6 separate regions of the Homo sapiens genome follow, and all the other regions are linked to region 1. Evidence: fine-mapped expression QTL. A gene starts in region 1. Each other region holds a variant in brackets. All regions are shown on one strand. Distances are from middle to middle.

What was found. PIP is the estimated chance that this variant, and not a neighbour inherited with it, causes the effect.
Region 2: its variant is the best candidate, but not a certain one, in a credible set for the expression of SMCO4 in whole blood (INTERVAL, PIP 0.80).
Region 3: its variant is the best candidate, but not a certain one, in a credible set for the expression of SMCO4 in whole blood (INTERVAL, PIP 0.80).
Region 4: its variant is the best candidate, but not a certain one, in a credible set for the expression of SMCO4 in testis (GTEx, PIP 0.65).
Region 5: its variant is the best candidate, but not a certain one, in a credible set for the expression of SMCO4 in monocytes after LPS (Quach 2016, PIP 0.89).
Region 6: its variant is the best candidate, but not a certain one, in a credible set for the expression of SMCO4 in whole blood (TOPMed, PIP 0.81).

Annotation. Positions count from the first base shown.
Region 1 is chr11:93,541,826-93,545,825 of GRCh38, forward strand. It overlaps SMCO4 (single-pass membrane protein with coiled-coil domains 4), which reads right to left and starts at 1,566. Exons shown (of 3, transcript NM_020179.3): 1 at 1,451-1,566. RefSeq lists silencers at 1,057-1,296, 1,427-1,476, 1,637-1,766.
Region 2 is chr11:93,478,829-93,482,828 of GRCh38, forward strand. SMCO4 (single-pass membrane protein with coiled-coil domains 4) reads right to left here. Exons shown (of 3, transcript NM_020179.3): 3 at 1-441. The coding sequence starts at 361. The coding sequence ends at 182. Among named protein-coding and RNA genes, the nearest start is that of SMCO4, 63 kb to the right of the region's middle. The variant C/G (reference allele first, on the strand shown) is at 2,041.
Region 3 is chr11:93,508,037-93,512,036 of GRCh38, forward strand. The region is part of intron 1 of SMCO4 (single-pass membrane protein with coiled-coil domains 4); the gene reads right to left. Among named protein-coding and RNA genes, the nearest start is that of SMCO4, 33 kb to the right of the region's middle. The variant T/C (reference allele first, on the strand shown) is at 2,499.
Region 4 is chr11:93,401,195-93,405,194 of GRCh38, forward strand. All of the region lies in intron 11 of DEUP1 (deuterosome assembly protein 1), which reads left to right. Among named protein-coding and RNA genes, the nearest start is that of DEUP1, 72 kb to the left of the region's middle. The variant T/G (reference allele first, on the strand shown) is at 2,084.
Region 5 is chr11:93,521,000-93,524,999 of GRCh38, forward strand. The region is part of intron 1 of SMCO4 (single-pass membrane protein with coiled-coil domains 4); the gene reads right to left. Among named protein-coding and RNA genes, the nearest start is that of SMCO4, 20 kb to the right of the region's middle. RefSeq lists an enhancer at 3,101-3,200. The variant C/A (reference allele first, on the strand shown) is at 2,007.
Region 6 is chr11:93,495,785-93,499,784 of GRCh38, forward strand. SMCO4 (single-pass membrane protein with coiled-coil domains 4) reads right to left here. Exons shown (of 3, transcript NM_020179.3): 2 at 3,492-3,564. Among named protein-coding and RNA genes, the nearest start is that of SMCO4, 46 kb to the right of the region's middle. The variant G/T (reference allele first, on the strand shown) is at 1,852.

The DNA.
Region 1 (4,000 bases):
ATTTTCTGTGGCTGATCCAGCCTTACAAGAAAAAAGATTTCACTGTGTCCCTCAGAAACCTACTCCTGTCTACATCACACTGTCGAGCTCTCTCTTTATACCCCATGTGACAGATAAGAAAACAGAAGTCCAGAGAGAGCAAGTGACTCATCCAAGGTCAAACTTCTTGCTAACACATCTAGGACGAGAATAAGGGCTCAAGAAGCCCACTATGGGTCTCTTGCCGTATCACTGCTGCAAATGACCAGGCATACTGGTGTCTTGAATACAAAGTTTATTTGTAAAGGGGAAAAAAAAAAAGCCAACATGAGTCATCTGCATTGTCAACGGGCTCCACACAGGTTGTTCTAATAAAGCATCCAGCACCTCCAGAACCACTTGTTTCTGAAAGCACCAACCTACGCAGACACTAGCAGGCCATGTCTTCCACCCTTGCCACCCTCGAGGCTGTGAGCAGATGCGCTGTTGGGCTCTGGGGATCTAGAGGTGTCACTTAAAGAGCAAGGGAGCCTGGAGCTTGGCAGTACTGACTGGATGAGTGGATGGGTGGGTGTATGAGGACATGGGAGTGTTTTCTGACAGCTCCCGGAGATAGTTATGATATCATGCAGCCTAATCCCACTCATCTTGGAACACCCCAAACATCTCATCCGCTCAGCTGTCCCTCCTCAACTTCCTCAGGGCAAAAGCACTGCAGTCTGAGGTGAATCTGGCCGCTGGGGAGGGGCGGTAGTCGGCCCCAGCAGCAGAGGAAGCAACGCTCAGCTCCCTCCTCCACCCACCCCGTACAGGAACTCCCCACTGGGTCTTCAGATGCCAGAGGCGTACCCAGCTCGGAGCCTGCCCCGGGTCTCAGGGTCGGTCCCGAAAGAACGGGGGAGGAGGAAGGCTCTATCCCGCCCCCGCCTCACCTCTACTCCCCGACCCCCAGGCGCCGACCCTTCTCACCCGCAAGGTCCGCCGCCGGACTCTTGTCCACTCCCAGAGACCCTGAGCGCACCCCTTTCTCGGCGTCCTCAAAGGACCCGCGTTTCCCACCTTCCCATACGGGGCCCTCCCGGCCGCCCCGGCCCAAGCCCTTTGCACTGCGTCCCCCGGCCCCTGAGTCCGCCCCGCACCCGCACTTCCCGCCCGGCCCCGCGGGCTCGCGGTCCGCCCCAACTTTTCCCAGCCCCCGCCCCGCAGCAACCGGGATGCAGCGTCTCGAGCCGCGACGGGCAGGCGAGCTCGAGTCCCTCGGGCCCCCAACCCCGCCCGCACGAGTTGCGCTCGGGACCCGCCGGGCGCCCAGGCCTGGGTCAGCAGCACTGCGCGGAGGCGGAGCCGGCGTGGCGGGAACCGTACTGTCCCGGCGCCGCACCCCCGCCCGGTGCCCGGTGCCCCGTGCCCCGCGCCCGCCCGCCGGCTCGCCCGCCCCGCCGCCGCCGCCGCCGCGCCGCTCCCAGCCCACCTGCCCGCGGGCGCCGCCGCCGCCGCCGCCACCACTGCCGGGAATACGTGGCAGTGGCCGCCGCCGCTTGCGCTCCCCGCCTCGCCTCTCCTCTCGGCGCCCGCGCGGGCGACTCTGGCGCGCCAGACCGCAGCGCCAGGCGCCCTCTGCCGCCGGGAAGCCGAATCCTCCCGTCCTAACCCTAACTCGCTGGCTGCCCCCGCCCGGGCCTCGGCTCCCGCCCCCTCTTCCCCGTTCCCGGCTCAGACTGTCGCTTCCGAGCGACCTGGGTTCTCGCCCGGCCTGCTGCTGCCGCTGCCTCCAGGAAGTTCGCCCTGACCACCTCTGCAGGCTCAGCGCGCTTCCTCCGGCTCCCGCGCAGCGGGTGCTTAAGTCACCCCCTTGTTGATATATTTCCTGCTTCTTTGAACGCCTCGCCCGTGAGATAGCAGAATCGGAAAGGGGATAGTTGGAGGCAAACGCCATGTCTGTTGTGTTCACCATTCTCTCCTCCAGGGCAAGGTTAGCGCCCTGTCTGGAATACTGAAGTGCGCAATAAATACTTGTGAAGAGAGCAAACGAGTAGATGAATGAGTTGAGACTTTTACCGCTGTCTACCCAAGTAGGCTTTGAAACCTCAAGCGGACAGAGATCCTGACCTGGATTTGTTTTTTGTAACTTACACGTGCATATGTGTGCGCAGCTCAGCATAAATAAATGAGATTCACAATTCCCCACCTCGGACCAGCGCCAAATCCGCAAGAGGCCCACGGCTAAATGTTATTCAGGGCTTTTGGTCAAACACGTTTAGGTTTGAGATCTACCTCTTAAAAGCTGGGCAATCGCGGGAAAGCTCATCTCCCTGGCCCACAGTGAACACGTCTATAAATTAAGAATAATAAAACCTACTTCACAGAGTTGTGAGAATTAATTGAGATGGTGCACTATAAAGTTCTTTACGCAGCCCCGATGTGTGCGGTGGTATGTAAATGGTAGTTATTGTTGTATTACTACTGATGCAGTAGGTGATTTTAAAAACTATCTTCGAAATGTAAAATATTGACTACCTTTTCACCTTAAAACCTTTATATGTGTGGTATTGTCACCTGCTCAGCAAGGCCAGCCCGGGGAGCAAGGCCACTCCTGTAACCTCTTCCCCTCCACCGGTAAAAATATAACAAGTCTTGGGGTTTTTTTGTTCTGTTTTGAAGAATTGTGGAACCCACTCTTCTGCAGGTTTTCCACCTGGATTTCTGTGGCCAATCTCTTAATTAACAAGTTTTTATTTTAGGGATGTCAAAGACAGGGAGCCCTTTGAAAGCACCTGCAGTCTACTGGCTCTTCCTGTTTTCTTCCTGACCCTCTCTCAAACAACTTAAGGCTTTTTTTTTCATTTTTACAGGAAGTGTCCTTCCTGCTGCGTACAAAAGGCAGCAATGCAGTAGAGTGGGATCAGAGGGGATTGGGCTGCATACACCTTGGGCTTTCTGCACCTCAGTCCCCTCAACGGTAAACTGTGGAGAATAAGACCTTGTCACATTGGGAGATCATTCATGATCCGGTCTGTGAAGGAAATAAGGAAATACCTGAAACACAAAGATATTTAATAAAAGGCAACTATTGATCAGTTTATTTAGCATGTATTTAAGGAGCATCTTTTTAGTGTTCTATGCGCTGAAAGAATGAGGGGAACACGCGTGTGTGAGGTAAGTTTCCTACCTTCAAAGGAGTTTGAGCTGTAGCTCCACACTAGGGCAGAGGGATTGGGAGCATATGGGATGCAGCTAAATATGAAATTAGCAAGCCTCAAGGTTTAAATTGGGGCAGTGGTACTGCCGTGTGAATTGCTTTAATTCATTATCATTGTAAATGCCATTTTCCTCTAAATATTATGTACACAACTTCCCAAGGCCACTGCTAAAAATTAATGAATAATTTTATGAGGCAAGCAGAGCCACTGATGTAGGACTCAGTCCCTTAATAAGGTGACTCCACATGCTCCCTTATAGTAGTAATAACATAGATATTGTGTCTGTGAAAGTGCCATCCTTGGCTGGGCGTGGTGGCTTACCCCTGTAATCCCTGCACTTTGGGAGGCCGAGGTGGGTGGATCACCTGAGGTCAGGAGTTCGGGATCAACCTGGCCAACACGATGAACCCCGTCTCTACTGAAAATACAAAAACTAGCTGGGCGTGGTGGCAGGCACCTATAATCCCAGCTACTTGGGAGGCCTGAGGCAGGAGAATCACCTGAACCCAGAAGGCGGAGGTTGTAGTGAGCTGAGATCATGCCACTGCACTCCAGCCTGGGCAACAAGAGTGAAACTCTGTCTCAAAAAAAAAAAAAAAAAAAAAGAGAGAGAGAGAGAAAAGAAAAAGAAAGTGTCATCCTTTATAGGTTAGAGTTGTGTATCTTGCAATGCAAGTCTCAGAGGAAAAGTTTACACATTTTACACTAATGGCTTCTAATGAATCACCCCTACTGAGTTGTCCTTCTGTAGCTCCCTCCCACGTTGACCCTGGAGTTGGCCTTGTGACTTCCTTTAGCTACTGGGACATGAACAAATATGA
Region 2 (4,000 bases), 63 kb before region 1:
CCCCTATTCCCTCCCAAGAAAGCGGAGATACTTTAATCAAGTCAAAGACCAGAGAAGACAGGGTGCTCCTGCTTACAGCTCAGCAACATGAACATCTCTGAATATGAAAGCCATTTTTTGTTTGCGTCCCCCTCCCGCGCCTCCTCTCCCTGCCGATGGGGTCCGCAGCCGGCTGCGGGGCTCACTCGGTGATGGTGGGGCGCGTGGCCACGTACACAAACACCACGATCAAGAGCACGACCACGGCCAGCGTGGGCAGCACCACTGTAGTGATCTGCTGCCGGGCCTCCTGCATGGCTTGCTTCCGCTCCTTCTTGTCCTTGGAGGTCTCCTTCTTGGGCTTCCCTTTGAGCTGCCGCATCTTTCCTAGAGGATGCTAGGAGGGTGTGTCCAGAGGGATTCCAGGAAGGGCCACACTCCTCTTGCCAAGGCTGGAACCTCCTGTAGAGAGAACAACTGTGATAGTAGAGAATAAACCAAATAGAAGAAAAAATAAATCACTTAAAGGCAAATACACAACTAGGAAAAATATCTGCAACTTACATGACAAAGGGCTAAGAACAGAGGCCACACCAGGCTCTAAGTTCTCTTGGGATCAGCGCTCTAAGTAGTGGGCACTGGGTCACCGGTGTGCTGTGAGAGGGGCCTCCGCTCCAGCGCCAGCTGGACAAAGCCCTGGGTACCAGACAAATAATACTGTGTTCTGTACATGCCATGAGGTGAAAGGATTGGGAAGCACCAACTACGCCGCCTCCACTCAGAGGAGCGGCTCTCCCTTTCGTGGCTCTAGCTACTTGCTTTCCTGCTCTAAGTTCCATGATCTCCCCAGCCCATCTCCAGCATGGAACTGCAGGCAGCCTGCAGTCTCCAGGCACGTAGCCCCCTTCCTGCCCAAGCCAGGCCAGCCTCATTAAGGCTGCAGAGAGCCCACAGGCATCAACTTCTCTCATCTCTTTGTTGGTTCCTTGGCCCATTCATCCAAACCTTCCCAAGCACCCACCGTGTGCCAAGCATTACTCAAGGAGCTGAGGATAGAGATGAAGGACTCAGTTGTGTCCCCACAGAGGTCACCGTCTAGGGGGCATGATGGAGACCCGGGTCACAGTAATAATGAAGGGAGACGGCTGAGCCCACAGTCCTGCCACCCACTCAACCTGGGATTCTCCTGTTAATTCTGTAGCTCACGGAGGTGCCTAACAGGTGAAGTAGAACTTTCAGGGGCCAGAAGAATGAATACAAATGTTTGGATAACTACAGAGGAACATCTCTATAAAAGTCGGCTTCTTAGCTTTAAGCAGATGAAGCAGACTTCAGCTGATTTAAATCGAGTTTACTTAAAGGCCTTTGGCATCTCACTGATTCCCAGAAAAGCCAAAGAACCAGGCTCAGAAAATGGGCAGGACATTATGCTGTGCTGCCATAACTGGAGCCCAACTCACACTCCCAGTGTGAGGATGCCAGAGCCTGCATCACCACCGTCAGCACTGGACATGGGCACTGGAGCAGGAGGTGCCGAGCCACCATGACCACCCCCAAAAACTAGATGTGGCTGCTGGCACAGTCTCCAGATGAACTCGCCACCCCCCAGCATTCTGCATCACCAGCTTCCATGCATGTGTGACTAGCCAAGCCCCGGCCCATATGCCCACAGCCTAGCCTTCCAATTTGTACAGCAGGAAGAGTACTTTTCAAACACAGTGACGGAGTGGGGTTGGGTATCAGGGCTATATCAAAGGCAGATGTCCATTACAATATTCTCGGAGAGTAGCATGGAGTGAGGGGTTCTTGGAAGCAGAAGAGCACTGAATACCAATGTTCCTCTAGCAGAGGGACCTATGCTGTATACTGTCTGCCCTGTTTTGTCCCAGGGTAGTGGGTGGCCTGTCATCATCTTGAGGAGGAAGATGACATTTACACCTAAGTGACCGAGGTGGTAGAATGTGAACTCAGAGTTGGGAAAGGTCTTACTGACACCATCCTGTTTTTATGAGGGATACTTAATCTCTTACCATTCCTCTCACTCCATTTAGACCCCAAAAC[C/G]TTTTTTGTATCATTCAAAATCAGGCAGAGTTTCCTAAGGTATGAGATGACAAATATTATTGTGCTAGGATGGCATAATGCCAATCAAAAGCAAACATTAAGGTTCAGCAAATATTAAGGGAAGCGCCATTTGGGCAAATGTATAATTTCCTTCATGAAATAAGGAACAGAGAGAAAAAAAAAAACACCTACTATTACTTTCTTAAGGCCTGAAAGGTATAGGAACCCCTGGCTTTACCAATTCTCCTTTTCAAGTCTTCCAAAGGACTTCCAGGCAGACTTGCCTTCAAATCCAGGACCAATCACTTACAGGCTAAATGGCTTTGAGCAAGTCACTTAACTCCACTAGGCCTCCATGCCATCATCTGAACAATGAGAACAGCTTGTCTTAAAGGATGACTGTGAGAATCTGGAAAACAAATGCATCTGTACCCAGAGCTCTGCCCGCCCGCAGGGACGCGGTACAGGTGGGCTGAGACATCTCCACCCATACCCGTGGGCGGCCCAGGGACGGGTGCACTGAGCTCCTCTAAGCCTGACTGCAGCCTTGAGTGATGCCCACCTTCGCGGGACCGTGGTGAGGATGGAGTAGGAAGCTGTATAACTCAGGGCTTGGCACAGAGCGGGCGGCGAATTCGTGCTAGCTGACATACCAACACCTGGAACACACCCCAACGGCCCTGTGAGTCAGACAGACAGGCTTTATTATCCCCATCACGGAAGGGAGGAAACCAAGGAGCAAAGGGGAAAAATGTCTTGCCAACAGTCACCCAGTTTGTAAATACCCCATGGCTTCTAACAGAGCAATGGACAGCATTCCTGTTCAAAGCTGCAAATGGCAGCCTATTCTCTCCGACACGGCCTCAAAAAAATTGTTTAAAAAGAAACAAGCCATTAGCAGCACTCTGATTCGTGGCCATTTCCTTGTGGAGCTAATGGCCTGTCGGAGCCCGCTGCTGTCTCTCCCAAATTCCTCACAGGACTGGCAGGTGGCACCCCAGGCCTGGGGCTAGCCATGCCCTGGCTGGCTGGCTAGCAGTGCTGGGCCTGACTTCCCTCCTGCACTTCATGCTGCTGTCTGCATCCACCCACACAAGTGTAGTTGACATTCAAAGGCCCCAGCCTCCACAATGACCAGTTCTCAACATTTGTAAGATGCATTCAGAAGTTCCTGGAGGCATGGAAAAAAGCCTCAAGCTGCTGGGGCCAGGGCCGGTCTGGTCAGGATTTAAAGGGCAAACATGCCCGTCTGAATCCTGGGTACTTCATCAGGCTTCAGGAGGAGCAGCGTCTCTGCTCTCACTCACCTGTGAGCTGGGGCAGCAAGGGAAAGCATCTCTGAGATAACGACTGGGGAGGGGACCCTATGGTGAAAAGGGACCAACCAGGAAAAAAGCTGGGAAGAGCACCAGGCAGAGGGCAGAGTGGCCTGAGCCAGGGAGGGCATGGGCACTGGGGAAGGGCGGACTCAAGAAGCGCATTGAGTGCTCTGCATGTGAGGATGCTTCTTAGACATCGTCATGGAAATAATATCAAGGAGGCAATTGGATAAATGAGTCAGGAGCTGGGTCTGGGCTGAAGATCTGTATTTGGAAGTCATCAACTATTGGATTAAGAGAGATCATGTCCAAGGCAGGCAGAGAAAGGGCCCAGGACTGAGTCCTTTCACCCTGACAGCTACAGGGCAGGAAGGGGAAGAGCAAGCATGGGGTACTCAGAGAAAAGGAGTGAGGCAAAAGAGAACGTGCTGTCGTGGGGACCAAGACAGTCAAGAAGGTCAACTGTGAGAAGACAGAGGCATTTGTGCCAGAACATAAGCGAACGCACTGCTTCCTTCCTCGGGAATATTTGGCCAGGGAAAAACTGTCAGTGGCACGTGCTCAGTGCAGAGCTGGCTGACACTCTGCTGCAAGCCCCTCTGTCTTCCGGTAGCTTGTGATGACGGGTCTGCATGCCAGCA
Region 3 (4,000 bases), 34 kb before region 1:
TAAACAAGTTTATAAATATTTTTAAATTTCTTTAATTTTAATTTCTAACACAGTAAATATTACTAGATACAATCTATACAAACAAAAGCTCTTAGGGGAATCTCACTAATTTTTAAGAGTTACATAAAGGGGTCCTGAAACCAATTGTGGAGAACTGCTGAGCTAGTGTCGTAGCGGGCAGGTGAAGGGAGGGGGACACCACTGGTCTCCAACACTGGGATGGGGCATTCAGAGCTGATCTTCAAGAGCCTATGAAGGGTGCTGAGTACGAAAATGGTATGGACAGATTTGCCTTTTAGAAAAAGCAAGGACAGCATAAAAGTGCCTCTGCTCCATGAACATATGATTCTGAAAACAAGTAAGTATGATAAGAAGTCAAACTGTAGGGCGTTGAAGGTCCATTATTACAACCTAAAAAATGAAATACAAATTTCTATAAAAGAGCAGGAAGAGAAGAATATTAAAATGTAATGATTTAAGAAAGAAGAAAAGCAGGGTCTTGCCAAATAGAACTGCAACTGAATGGAATTCTGCAAAATGAGGGAAATCATTAGTAACAAAGTGCAGGGCTTTAAACATCTAAAGATGCCAGAATCAAGATGCATTTCAGGCAAGTCTGGAAAATAAAAATAAAGGAGTCAGCAAAGAGCAATAAACTACAGCAGTAAAGAGGGAAAATGAATGCAGCCAAGAAAAGATGAACAGAAGCAGTTAGAAATAAAAAGAAGTAGTGAGGAGAGAAAATTGGTTCCTATTTCCAGAGCATGGACTCTATCCAATCAGCACACACTCCACCACTGGAGGTGGGAAAAGAAGGAGCAGGAAACACTTCCAGAGCAAAGTAGACCTCTGCAGAGCCTGGACGAGCAGACCCACTGAGCAATGACCTCATCTAGGTAAAACTGGGTTATACCAATTAAGAACAGAGGCCATATAGAAGAGACAAGAGACAACTATTAAAAATTGCTCACGGCCAGGTGCAGTGGCCCATGCCTGTAATCCCAACACTCTGGGAGGCGGAGGTAGGCAATTTACTTCAGCCCAGGAGTTTGAGACCAGCCTGGGCAACATGGTGAAACCCTGTCTCTACCAAAAAAAAAAAAAGTTAGCTGGGCATGGTTGCATATGCCTATAGTCTCAGATACTCGGGAGGCCAAAGCAGGAGGATCGCTTGCACCCAGAAGCTCAAGGCTGCAGTGAGCTATGATTGCACTGCTGTACTTTAGCTAAGCAACAGAATGAGACCCTGACTCAAAAATGGAAAAAAAAAAAAAAAGTTGCTCACAAGGGGCTTACAAACAGCCATCATTTTCTAAGTCAAAGCAATTATGGGAATGCAAACTGGTACAACCACTATGGAAAACAGTGTGGAGATTCCTTAAAGAACTAAAAGTAGGACCACCATTTTATCCAGCAACCCCACAATCCCAGTATCTACCCAGAGGAAAAGAAGTCATTATATGAGAAAGATACTTGCACATGCATGTTTACAGCAGCACAATTCGCATTTGTAAAAATATGGAACCAGCCCAAATGCCCATCAATCAACGAGTGGATAAAGAAACTGTGCTATACATATACCACGAAAGACTACTGCGTCATAATAAAGAATGAAATAATGGCATTTACAGCAACCTGGACGGAACTGGAGATCATTATTCTAAGTGAAGTAACTCAGGAATGGAAAACCAAACATCCTATGTTCTCACTCATAATTGGGAGCTAAGCTATGGGTGCAAAGGCATAAGAATGATGCATAAGAGTGGACTTTGGGGACTTGGTGGGGAAAGGATGGGAGCAGAGTGAGGGATAAAAGGATACACACTGAGTATAGTGTACACTGCTCAGGTGATCAGTGCACCAAAATCTCAGAAATCACCATCAGAGAACTTATTCATATAATCAAACACTACCTCTTCCCCAAAAACCTATTGGAATAAAACTAAAAAAGCAATTAAAAGACTAGTTATAACTAAAAGAGAAGGAGGTCCTATAGAGAACTCCAAACAGGAGACCGCGTCAAGTTTCTCAAACTCTCTGGACTACAGTTTCCTCTTGCATAAAATGGGGAGTCCACCACCTACTTGACAAGGTTGGTGTGAGCATCATGGACTCTGAGTACAGGTCTGGTGAAGGGCAGATGCTCAACAAATGAAAGCTGCAATTAGTATCACCCTAGTTATGACCGCAGGGCCAAAGTGGGACCTACAGTTGTCACTGCACTAGCCTAGGCCAGAAAGCTCTCCAAGCTCAAATGTCAAGGTTTCAACAATCACCAATGTGTGAACCTAAGAAGGAATTTGAATGGCTTTGGCCTTAGGGCTACAGTCACTCTGCTGATGAAAAAACTGCCCTTGACCAACCAAGGCCTGGATCTAAGTGGAAAGGCACACTGCCAAGCACAAGGAGATCCAAGAAAGAAGAGATTTTTAAAAAACAGTCACTTTTCCTGAACAGCCAACACTGCCATGCCAGGGACCTTTTACACAATCTCCCAA[T/C]TGTCGAAAGCAGCCCAGATGTAGGCTTGTATGCTGTTACCACCCACCCCCAACCCCACTGCACCCCACCACAGTTTTATGGAACAGGAAGCTGTCTCATGGCTGAATTGCAAAGAAGTGGTGTAGTCAGGTCCTCCACCTCTTGATCTGCGGCTCAGGACTCCTTCACTACCACACTGCTCAGCCCACAAGGACTAAGGGCCTGCCCAACAGATGTAAGCCAGCAGCTCTTCATCTAGTTAGAGCAGCACACTGGGGATCCACAGATTAAAAGACAAAAACAGGCCACTGCAGTGGCTCATGCCTGTAATCCAAGCACTTTGGGATGCTGAGGTGGGCGGATCACTTGAGGTCAGGAGTTAAAGACTAGCCTGGCCAACATGGTGAAACCCCATCTCTACTAAAAATACAAAAATTAGCCAGGTATGGTGGCAGGCACCTGTATACCCAGCTACTGCGGAGACTGAGGCAGGAGAATCACTTAAACCCAGGAGGCAGAGGATGCAGTGAACCAAGATTATACCACTGCACTCCAGCCTGAGAGACAGAGCAAGACTCCGTCTCAAAATGGGACAAAAACAAAAAGCCCACTCAAAAGATTTTGACCCACCCACAGAAATAAACATGTCCAATTAAAAAAAAATGCTTTCTAGAAAGGTAAGACAGGAAGAAGAAAGGACTATTTTGACAGGGATAGACGATTCAGCCAAAAATGAGACCCCTCCCTTCCTTCACCTCCCACAGCTAATCAAACACCCAGTTAGGTTTTCCCTGACTGTCATGCCAGACGCTGCCCTAGGGACTGATGCAGGCCAGCCTTTGTGCCCCTGAAGTCAGCAAGGAACTACAGCAGGTCCTCAAATAGCATCATTGCATTATAACGTTGATAAAAAGAAAAAAAAAATCAATTCCCAGCTGGGGCCACTGTCTGTGTGGAGTTTGCACATTCTCTCCATGTCTGTGTGGGTTTTCTCCAGGTACTCTGGTTTCCTCTTACATCCTCTACAAATACCTAACTTGAACATCCCAAAGATGTTGGAGTTAGGCACTTATGTGTCTAATGGTCCCCATCGGAGTGGATGTGAGCGCACCTTGGGATGAAACTGTGTCCTACGCAGGGTGTGCTTATCACCTTGTGCCCTGAGCTGCTGGGAGAGGCTCCAACCACATGCTACTCTACACTGGAATAAGCAGGTTAGAAAATGGATAAATGAATGAATACAAATTATTGTCAAAAAAAAATTCATAAAGTATAATCATACAAATGCAGGACATTAACAATGTGGTCTGAAAGTGCTCAGTGAGCTGCCATATTCGTAATTGTTTTTAAACTGCACGGTAGGAGGAGATGACCCTGGTAATTTTCATTTTGTAAACATGACCACCCTCACTCACTGATCCACCAAAAACTGGGTCAATAGTGATCTCACTTGTTCTTATTAATTTTTCTTAAATGTAGGTATAGCTGCCATTTACTTCAGTGTTTAGTATTAGAAGTGTTT
Region 4 (4,000 bases), 140 kb before region 1:
TAACTACAGAGAATATGAAATACCTAAGAATCAATTTAACCAAAGAAGTGAAAGATATATACAAGGAAAACTATATATCTCTGATGAAAGAAATTGAAGAGGATAAAAAAATGGAAAGATATTCCATTCTCATGTATTGGAAGAGTTAATATTATTAAAATGACAATACTACTCACAGCGATTTACAGATTCAGTGTGATCCCTATCAAAATGCCAATGACATTCTTCAAAGAAATAGAAAAAAAACTATTCTAAAATTTATATGCAAACACAGAAGACCCTGAATAGCCAAAGAAATCCTAAGTAGAAAGAACAAAGATGGAGACAGTATACTACCTGACTTCAAAATATACTACAAAGCTATAGTAACCAAATCAACATGGGACTGGCATAAAAACAGACACATAGACCAATGGAACAGAATAGAGAACCCAGATATAAACCAATGCATTTACAGCCAATTAATCTTCGATAACCACAATGAGATACCACTTCACACCCACTAGAATGACTAAAATTAGATATATTGAAAATAATGTATTTTCAAGAATATACAATAGGGAAAGGACAGCCTCTTCAATAAATGGTGCTGGGAAAACTGGTAATTACGTGTAGAAGAATAAAACTAGACTCCTATCTCTCACCAAACAAAAATCAAATAAAAATTGATTGAAGACTTAAATCTAAGACAGGAAACTATGAAACTACTAAAAGAAGACATTAGGGAAATACTCCATGACTTTAGTCTGAGCAAAGATTTTTTTGTGTAAGTTCTCAAAAATACAGGCAATCAAAGGAAAAATAGGTAAGTGGGATCATATCAAGCTGAAAAGCTTCTGCACAGCAAAGAAAAGAATCAACAAAGTGAAAAGATGACCCACAGAATGCAAGAAAATATTTGCAAACTATCCATATGACAAGGAATTAATAACCAAAATATATAAGGAGCTCAAAAAACTCAATAGTAAAAAAAAATAATTTGATTTAATAATGGCCAAAAGATCTGAATAGACATTTCTCAAAAGAAGACATACAGATGGCCAACAGGTATATGAAAAAAAATTCAGTATCACTAATCATCAGAGAAACGCAAATCAAAACCGCAATCAGATATCATCACATTCCAGTTAAAATGACTTTTATTTAAAAAGACAGGTAATAATGGATGCTGGCAAGGATTTGGACGAAGGGGAACCCTCATACACTGTTGGTGGGAATGTAAATTAGTATAGCACCTATGGAGAACAGTATAAAGTTTCCTCAAAAAACTAAAACTAAAACTATGATATGGTCCAGCAATTCCACTACTGGGTATATATCCAAAAGAAAGGAATCAATATATAAAAGAGATACCTGCACTCCTGTGTTTATTGCAGCATTATTTTCAATAGTCAAAATGTAGAATCAACTTAAGTGCTTATCAGTGGACGAATGGATTAAGAAATGTGGTATATATACACAATGGAATATTATTCAGCCAGAAAAAATAAAAAATAAAAAATAAAATCCTGTCAGTTGTAGCAAATGGATGAAACTGCTAGAGGTCATTATGTTAAGTGAAATAAGCGAAGCACAGAAAGACAAATATTGCATGTTCTCACTCATATGTGGGAGCTGAAAATGTGGATCTTATGAAGATAGAAAGTAAATTGGTGGTTACCAGAGGCTAAGAAGGATAGGGAGGAAGGGAGAATGAAGAGAAGTTGGTTAACGGGTACAAGTATAGTGTTTGGAAATATTACCTATTGTTCAACACTAGGTAACATATATGTATGATCTATTATACATTTCAAAATAGCCAAAAGAGAATAATTTTGTTTCTAGCATAAAGAAAAGACAAATATTTAAGGTGATGATACCTCAAGTACACTGATTTGATCTCTACAAATTATTTAAATGTACTAATTTATCCTATGTACTCTGAAAATACATCTATTGTGGATCAATAAAAGAAGAATTTAAAATCTGTGTGTATAAATGAGATTTGTATATGGTTCTTTTTCTACTTGTTTTAAGGTTATACTATATTTATAATATAAATTGAGAACTTTATGAGTTGTTTAGAATAGTTTAAGTAATATTG[T/G]AAGTATCAGTTCTTTAAAGGTTAGAAAGAATTTAGCTGTGAAACTGGACCTGGTAAATCTTCAATTATTTTTCCACTCTCTTTTAGAGTACTTGGTATATCCAAGTTTCACTACTACTACTTAGAAGTACTTTGTAGGTTATTTCAGTAATTTGTATTTTTCTAGGAAATCAGTTTCAACTTGTTTTATTATTACTAAAGGTAGTAATGTCCTACAGTTCTTTTTATCTCTTCTATATTCTGTTTATAATTCCTTTCTTATTTCTAAGCTTGTATAGTTTAGCATGCTCTCTATTTTTTGTCTTAACTCTGACTCACAAGTGATTTATTTTATTAGCATTTAAAAATATTGGCTTTTGGATTTATTATTCTTTTCATACATTTTTCTTAATTTTATTATTTTTAGTTTCATCAGTTAATTTTCTCTTTCTGCTGTTTTATTTGGTTATCCTTTCTCAATGAAGAAAATTTATTGAAATGAAGAAAACTTTATCATATCTATTATATATTAAAATTTCATAATTAGGAAAAAATCCATAATTAGTTAATTCTTTCTGAAATAATTGGAATGCATAAATATAAAATTAAATAATTGGTGCTGAAATTTTACGTCAGGCAACAGAAACAAGATATTTACATCATTATTTTTGTCTTCTAAAATATGTGCTGTTTGGAAAATATTAAAATAATAACTTTTTCCTTTCTACAAGGAAATTACTGATCTTCAGGTTGGTTATTTCTAACCAATTATAGCTTTGAGAATCTTTCTGCTTGACTACCTATGAAGCTGCCTGCTCATTTCCACTTAGAGAATGAAAGTTTACCACAGGCAGCCACCCAGTTCTAGGAATGCATGGGGTTATGCAGCTCCCATTTGGGGAATGTACTGATGGGACTAACTACCTGGTATCTAAGGTTTCCTGGGTGTCAGTGAGGGACGTAGAATAGTGGAGAAAAGTGAAGGGTTTTCTCTTATTCTGCTCTTGGGTAGCTAACAAATAATCAAGCTTATCGTCGTAGGCTTTTTAATGCCATATTTACTTAGTCCTTCAATTGTATTATTAATTTTTCTTTTATTTAAGAAAGTTGTAATAAAATCAGATTTAATTAGAACTCAGAATCTGTGGTAATTTTTAAGAGGACTAATTTGCTTTTCACCATCCGTAAAGTTTTCTAAATAAAATAGTAACATAAAAAATTAGTACCCTTACAATGATTAAAACATCCATTTACGTACTGAAAATTAACATACCAACTACAAAACATCATTAAAGCCAGTCTTTCTGTCAAAATGCTTTTTTAGCATAATTGTTACTGTTAAATATGCATAAGAAGAAAAACCATACATGCAAAATATTATTTAGACACTTCAGTAATTAAGCCAGCCTCATCCTAATCTGTTGAAGTAAATGAGCACCAGGAGGTTTTGCCATTTCAAGAATAAAGAAATGGATTAAAACTATCAAACTCTAAAATTTTGAAAGAAAACAAAAGTTGAGTAAATGGGTAAAAAGAATCCATTAGAAACACAAGAGGTGGGGGTGGATATATTCCTGAAATCATTAGAAATGCATTTAAGAAAAATATTAAATTAAATGAGAGGGACCCAAAAAAGGGTTTTGTAAAGGAAAATGTACTCTTAAATGTAAAACATGCAAATACATTACCTGTGTAATTCTTTTAGTTCATGCTCACAACACTTATTTAATTATGGTACATTTAGGAAATTGCAGGGTTTTAAAAATCATTATTATCATTCTTAATTACTTTAAACCAACATTGGATAAAAAAAATCACAGATTAAATCTAATTTTATAGGAAAAGCTTAAACAAAATTTTAACTAAGCAGCCGACCATCAAGAATTCTGTACTTTGACTGGTAGATATCTTATTAAGAGTCAAATTTTGAGTCTTATT
Region 5 (4,000 bases), 21 kb before region 1:
TTGCTATATTCAGTTTTAGGAAACTGTTGTTTTTGATGAAAATACAAAGCACCTGGCTTTCCTAAGAAATGTCATTTATATTCTCAGATTCCACATGCAGCCATATCTCTGGAAGATGCTGTTTTCTCTAACTGGCAAAACCAGGACATCTCTTTGTATGCACACACCTGCTCTGTTGCAACATTCACTTCCTTTCACTGCCACAGCCAAACCACAGATTAGAGCTACAAGTTTAGATCAAGATCAATAACCATCACAGATCTGCAACTCTAGAAGGGGCTCCTGCAGTGGGCCTGGCTCCAGCTGGTGCCCTGGGACCCAACATGAGTCACTTAATCTCTCTTAATCATAAAACGAAGGGCAGCAGATAATGCTTACTAACTGCTTATCAGATGCCAGGCACTGTGCTAAAGCCACTAAACTCGAGCTAACTCATCTAACTGTCATAATACCTGAGGTAGGTACCCTCATCATACCCTGCCTAAAGATGGACAAAGTCAGGCTTAAAAAAGTTACCCAAAGTCACACAACCATGACACTGCACAAACAGAATTCAAACACAGGTTTCTCAGACTTTAGACCCCAAGCTCTTAACTATCACACTCGGTGTCTTTCTGCTTTCCTCATTCATAAAGCAAGGGTAAGAATACCTGTCATTTCCTTGCAGAGACAGTATTCTGCAAATTGTCCTTAACATCATTCTGACTATTCTTCCAGTCTGAGGGGTGAACTGTTACAAATTCTCCCAGACAGACCAACCAATCAGCTAAGTACTCAGTACTGGACTAAGGATGAAGGGAACATAAAAGAGAGAACATCCCTGCCGCCAAGGACTTCGCAATCTAGCCAATACCAATCGAAGCTATAATCTCTCTCAGATATTTTGATCATTGATCCACAGTCAGAAGTGTATTTCTATTATGGCCTGGGAGGGATGCACCTACACACAGCCTTACTGTGTGTCACACATTGTTATTTTTCACTGTTCTATTTCATTTAAAAATGTATCAACCCACTAAATCAATTCTCTGACTGTGGATTGTGATTAACAGTTTGAAAAGCCCCAACTCTAGCCCCTTTTTGGCACAAACTTTAAAACAAAACAAAAACAAAATGTCAGGAAGTTCTTCCTCAGACTAGTTTAAGTTTCTTGGGCTATCGGGTTAATTGGATTTGTATCGCTGAATATGTCCTCAGGGGCAGATGCACCAGCATATCCGATCTGTGAAGGGTATAAAAAGTGGACTCCTGCAGGCCCACATTCAAATGCTGACTCTCTGGCATGTTAGCTATGTGACTTCTCCAGATCTTGGTCTATAAAACAGAAGATAATTCCACTCACCCCTCTGGCTTTTTACAAGGGACCTACCTGGTACTGGTTCTGTCTTTCTCAGCAGAGGGGCTGTGGGCATGGGAGGAAGGGAGACAAGTCTGGTCATGTGGCACGACCAGTTTACGCAACACAAGACCTGTGGTAGCCAATTCCACCCCTCGGCCTGCTACCATGTTAAGTGATTCGAAATCCTTCAAATCTTTTATGCAGGCATCCGTTGTATTCCACATGGAAGTACAATAAATAAGATGCCTAAGATATAACAGGGCATAGGCCAAGTCTCCGCCATTGTAGAGCTTGCTGTTAATCTAGGCAGGTGGCCAGGTAAACAGGTAACTGTAACTGACCGCACCAGGTGGTATAACATAAGTCTGGGAGTCTGATGAGAGAGTGTCTGATGAGAGAGTGTCTCATGCAGGGAAGTCTAGTCCTTGATCCCATTTGCAATTCCCTTAGTGTCAAAAACCACACCTTGCAAACTTCTAATTTATAACACATAAAGACTTAAAAACCACTACCACCACACTGAGGACAAGAATCCTTGTCTGTAGCCACAGCAATAAGAGGGCTATCAACTCCAGTTCTATCTCCCCTACGAGATGCTAAGTTCCTTGAGACCTGAAGTAAGAGAATTGCTCAAGATCACACAGCAAATACACAAAATTGGAAACCC[C/A]AAAGATCAAAAATTGCAGGTCACTTTGCTGGTTCCTCTGGAATTTCCCCTATACTTGTCTAGGCTCAAACATAAAAACTAATGTGGAAAGGAGAGAGAGGAGAAGGGAAAAAAGGTCTGTCACTAGGTGACCAAAAATGTAAGAGCTGGCCAAGCACGGTGGCTCATGCCTGTAATCCCAGCACTTTGGGAGGGCCGAGGTAGGAGGATTGCCTGTCCCAGCTACTCAGGAGAATTTCCTGAGCTCAGGAGATGAGCTGTGATCACGCCACTGCACTCCAGCCTGGGTTACAGAGTGAGACCCTGTCTCAAAAAAAACAAAAAGACTTACCCACTAGACGCTGATTAGGTCTTTGAAGAGGTGAGACCACGCCGGGCATAGTGGCTCACGCCTGTAATCCCAGCACTCTGGGAGGCCAAGGCAGGTGGATTGCTTGAGCTCAGGAGTTCAAGACCAGCCTGGGTAACATGGCAAAACCCTATCTCTACCAAGAATATAAAAAATTAGCTGGACATGGTGGCACATGCCTGTAGTCCCAGCTATTCCGGAGGCAGAGACAGGAGAATCGCCTGAGCCTGGGAGGCAGAGGTTGCAGTGAGCTGAGATCATGCCACCGCACTCTAGCCTGGGCAACAGAGCAAGACCCCGCAAGAAATGAGACCAGAAAACCTCAAATTTAGTTTTTTAAGTCTTTTCAAGATAATTATACAATCAGTGAAAGTGTGTGTGCTAAAAGTGCTGACACGTCCAATATGTAAATTTAAAATACCCCGCTTTCTAAAATCGTGTTTTGGCATTTCCTCATTTTTAAAAATACTGGGCATTTCTGAGAGGCTGTGTGGTTAACATGGACTTCCTTAGTTTTGGTTTCCAGTAAATGAAGCATATATCAGCACCCCATTCCAAAACCAAAAGAATGAGAAAACCTTGGAAAGATTCTAGCTGAAACAGGGTTTTTAAGCTTCATCCTCTCCTTCTTGTTTTGGGGGAGGAAGTGTGCAGGGAAGATCAGTTACTAATGCCCTTCAGGGGAGGGGAGTTTCTCAGGCCTCAACCTCTGTAGCTGAGATCTGTATTTTCTTCAAGCCATCCTGGTTGAAAAATAAAAACAAGCGATTACAACACATTGAGCCTGGGTGATCTCACATACACTATCTCATATATATCTTACCACAGCCTCTTTTAGATTGTACTATCATCACCAATTTATAGGACACAGACTCAGAAAGGTTCAGTAACCAGCTCAGGCTCACAAAGCCAGGAAACGGCCGGGAGGGAACCTAGGATGGGACCACACATTCCTGAGGGAGAAGAGAACCCTACTGTGTACACGATCCCCAGGGCATTTGAAGAGGGCATTCTTTCACTTTCGGAATACAAGCTGATTTTAAACAGGCATCTTCTCGGTTGTGTTTTATGAAACTTACAGGGGAAGCTATGGTATAGAAGTATGCTACCTAAGAGTGACTTCCCTTAAGAATCCCCATCTGTAAAATGGAGATGATGACGACCACTCCCTGGGAGCACTGGACAAGACTTTCTGGGCAAAGTCCTGAAAACTCTGACACTCCACAAACACAAATGACCTGGAGCAGCAGCATTACTGCCAGGCCCCTGGAAGTAGCTTATGGGGACAAACTGAAGAGAAAGGCAAAACACACACTCCCCGCTACAAAAGTGCTTAGTCCTCCAAAATGCAGGGAAGGCACGGAGTACTGATGATGAGGAATGGTGGGTCAACAGCCAGTGCACACAGAGGAGGTGGTGCATCCAATGCGTTCCCCACCTATGTTAACTCACAGATCTCGCCTGCTCACTGCACTCATCCAAGGTCTTGGGCAAGGACCCACAGAAAAATAGTGAAACAGGAAAAAAATCCAACAAAGGGTATAAACTCAGAATTCTGTGATCCAGTCACACCAGAGTGACATCATAAAACATAACTCCAGTTCCACAAAGACAGATGCTTCCCTGGGCTGGGCGGCCCACATCC
Region 6 (4,000 bases), 46 kb before region 1:
TCTAGGAGTTGTTATTCTGGTGTTTGGAGGAACAAATCACTCCTTGTTCCATTTCCCAGAACACAATATTCATTCTAAGTACACCTTTGAGAGCCTGAGTTATTTTATTGCGTTTGGAAAATTGAAGTCACTGCAATCTTCCTAGGAAGTCAAGAGTGAAGGGGAGAATGTCTCACAAGCTACAACAACATGGTGCCAACAATGCTGTGCCTCTGTAGCCAGGCCTGGGGCCCAGACAGTGCAGTCCACTCCATGGGCTGCACTGGGCTTATGTGTTTCATCAAGTGCAGGATGAGGTCACCAACAGGTTTCAAGCAAGGGAATTACATGATTTGACAAGAATTTTTAAAGATTGCTCTGGGTCCAAATTGATGAGAGGAATAGAAGAAAAGGGGAAGCAGGCAGGGCAGTCAGTTAAGAGGCTTTGGCAGTCACCTGGCAAAGGACGATGTTGGCTTGGACTTGGGGGGCGGATACAGGAAGGCCATGGATGAATTCAAGATGTACTTTAGGAGAGGCATCATTAGGATTTGGTGATTTGGGGGAAGAAAAAGATGAGTATTAACAAATGAAGTACCAGTTTCTGGCCTGACAAAGTGAGTTAACAACTACGTACCTTAATAAGATGGGGGAAGGGAGGAGGCCTAGAAAGGGACTATGGTAGAAGTAGACCAAGAGTTAAAATCTGGACACAGTAAGCTTGAGGTGCCCATGAGATACCAAGTTTGCTAACTGCCATAAAGGGTGTAAGAATGCTATAGAACACAGAGGAGTCCTGGGGCCAGCCTCAGAGGTGACCCCTGTCTATCCTCTCATGGTGTCGGAGGTCCTGCCACTGTGCCAATTCAAGGTGGGCACAACCACTGAGGAGCACCTGGAACCCCACTCAGCCAGGACACATGAGGGTAGCCTCTATGAGGATCCTCACTAATGCAGATCCAGCTTTGGGGTTAAGAAAACAATAACCTTAACAGTAAAATGGTGCTTGCATCATGCCACAACTAAAAGTAAAATGTGAAGCCTGTTTCCTTTGATTACAAGCATCACGATAGGCTTGCAGATTTCTCGATACTGATGCTTCAGATTCCCAGTAAAAGGGTGTTGGTATCTGGTCCTGGGCCCCAACGCTTACACTATGGGGAGTAACCTGTTTGGGGGATTCCAGGTTAGAATTTCCCACAGGAAAATGTTAATCTAAGAGAGTATCAGAGGAAGGTCTCTCAACATAAAAAGACCAGAGATGGTGGCCTGTTTTAGGAAAACAACAATTCACTGAAATCACATCCTGCTTTTAATAGCCCCCCTTCTAGAATAGAAGCTGGTTTTTTATTATGATGGTTCTATTTTCCCATTTCCCCATCAAAGGACAAATCAAAATGTCACCTGACAATCCACTTTCATTAAAAGTTGAGCAATTTTTTAAAAATCACAGTTAACTAAACAATTCCACATGGCAATAAAGCACTGTGCTCTGCTGCCTTGACTGATAGAAACCATTTGCAATGATTTAAAAGAGAAGGAAGCGAAAGAACATCATCAGATACAGCTGAATTAAGCTGATCAAACCTGTTAGTGTCTTCCAGTTTACTCAGAGTAAGACAATGCAGCATTCATGTAAGCTAATTAAATTTCTTGTATTTAAATTAGCCTTAACAAAAACAAAACTTTCAAGACTGACTGGAAGGTCTCAGGAGGAACATATCTGCTTTTTCAAGAAAGCTGCCTGGCTGAGGGTGGAGGGAGCACCAGGGTCAGACTCTCAACAGAAGGTCAAGACTCCCCTCCCTCAAAGGAACACTGAGGGTAGAGACGGTTCTGTGACACTGTTAGTTTGCCATGGCTTCCAAAGGG[G/T]GGTACCAAGATCAGATGGTTGGGGGGAACTGAACCCCATTCACATCAGTTCATGATGTTATGCAAGACATTGAACTTCTGAGCTTATTTCCCAACTTTGAAAATGAGAAGTTACCACTTGCCTCTGCCTGCTTCCCAGGACTGGTGGGAGAAGAAAATCTGCCGACGTGTGTCAAAGCACCTTGCAAAAGAGAAAGCACTCTACAAATGTGAGAGACAGTTGCTGGTTACTGTTAGGCAGAAAGGGCTGAGTCAAGTCTTCCAAGATGATGGTGACCAATTAAACTGATTTTCTTTTTTTTGAGAACTGTCAGTTGATTATTTATTTTGTATAAAAGTTACATTGAAAGAAGAGGTTGAAAAGTCAAGTATACTAGATTTGCACACACTTGCGAAGTCTCACAGGATTCAACCACTTGGATAATTTCTTAATTGATAACAGGATATACATATTAAAAGCCTCACACTGAAGCCCAATACACGTCAAACCCAGACAACAATGTGCAGATGAATACGCAAAACAATCTCTGGAAATTTGTATCTCTGGGAACACCCACAATCTATGCTTTGTCCCTCTGGCTATGATGCATAAACTCATAAAATTAATAAGAAACTTTTATGGGATCTTTAGCAGTTACAGTAAACAGTTTGAGAAAAGGAACCTGCTGACTTATTCATTTAAAGGACAAAGGTTGGGGGCAGGGAGGTGGGTTAAGACACAAAGTCACTGAGTGAAGCAGTCGAGAGCATGGCACAGATGGAGAAGGTGATCCACCTGTGCAGCAGATAGGAGGGGCTACAACCACAGCGAGACCTAAAGCCCCCCACATGCAACCCCCACTCACACCCGCCACAAGCGGAGAAGGGGGCTGGGGAGCTGTGCTCCAGTGACCACTGGCATCCAGCTCTGCCTGTCACCTCCCTCCCCACTTCTGGATTCCTGCTCTTAACATGGGTCCAAAATCAAATGTGAAAAAAAAGTATCAGATACAAAAGCTTTGCTATTAGCTTCATTTCACCAATAGCCAAAGGACACCTGGCGAAGATCAGGAATTTCGGATGAATGCTCAAAGATCATAATGTATTTAAGAATGATTCCTAGTACAGGCCCAGTAAGGGAGGCGTGGTGGGGGTACAATGTGGGTCCACACAGGAGCAGGCCTCTTGTGGAGAGGCTCCTTCATGAGTCATTCGAGAAACATTTATGGAATACCGACTGTGTCCCAGGCACAACTCAGATGCACCCTTAAGCAGCTTACTGGGGAAAACACAAAAACAGGCAACGAGAATAAAGCGTGGAAGTAAGTACTATGATGGGGGGTGTGTCACAGACCTCTACCCGACTGGCCAAGAGAGGAAGGGTGAGACCATCAGGGGAAGGGCAAACGAGAACACAAACATCACAGGAAGGAGAAAGTGTCGTGGGGGTTCAACAGCAGGAGAAATCACCCGCAGCCTGGAGGAGATCCTCCACAAAGGACAAAGGTGGCATTTGATAAAGATCTTGAGGGATGAAGAGGAACTTGGCCAGGCAGAGAGAAGGGGTAAAATATTACACACAAAACTAGGCATATGAGAGAAATGACTGGGACAGTAACCTCTCCCCAGACAATGAGTTTCCCTTATAAGAGAATGTTTACCTTTTCTTCAACTTCAAGAATCGTTGATTAATTTCAGCAAACTGATTTCCAGTACAGGTGACTTGAGTTATTCCTGTTGAGAAATTAGAAGAAAGGGTATAATAGCTGCTGGGGAGGTATCCCTCCACAGACTCCTTTTTTGGAACCCCCTCAGCCCATGCTGAGAGGGCAGTCACACGGTTCCCCTCTCCCAACTGGCTTAGGGATAGACACTTGTCACCGCCCTGCTCCAGAAGGGCAGACAGACAGATACACTGGCACATGTGTGCATGTGCGTGATGGACAGGACCAAGCAGCCCCTGCATGGAGTTAGAGGGGCCTTCCCACTCCTGTGCCCAGCAGGCAGTCAAGCTTTGCTTCCTGTATTCCTGGGATTTCTACAACAAACTCGCTGCTAACTTAAGCCGCCATGAGACCATGGCTGTTCCCTGCAATCAAAAATCACTGATTTAAAAATGAAGGATACAGGTTTGGGATTAGAAAAGAAACAAACGCGGAAGGTGAAGGAA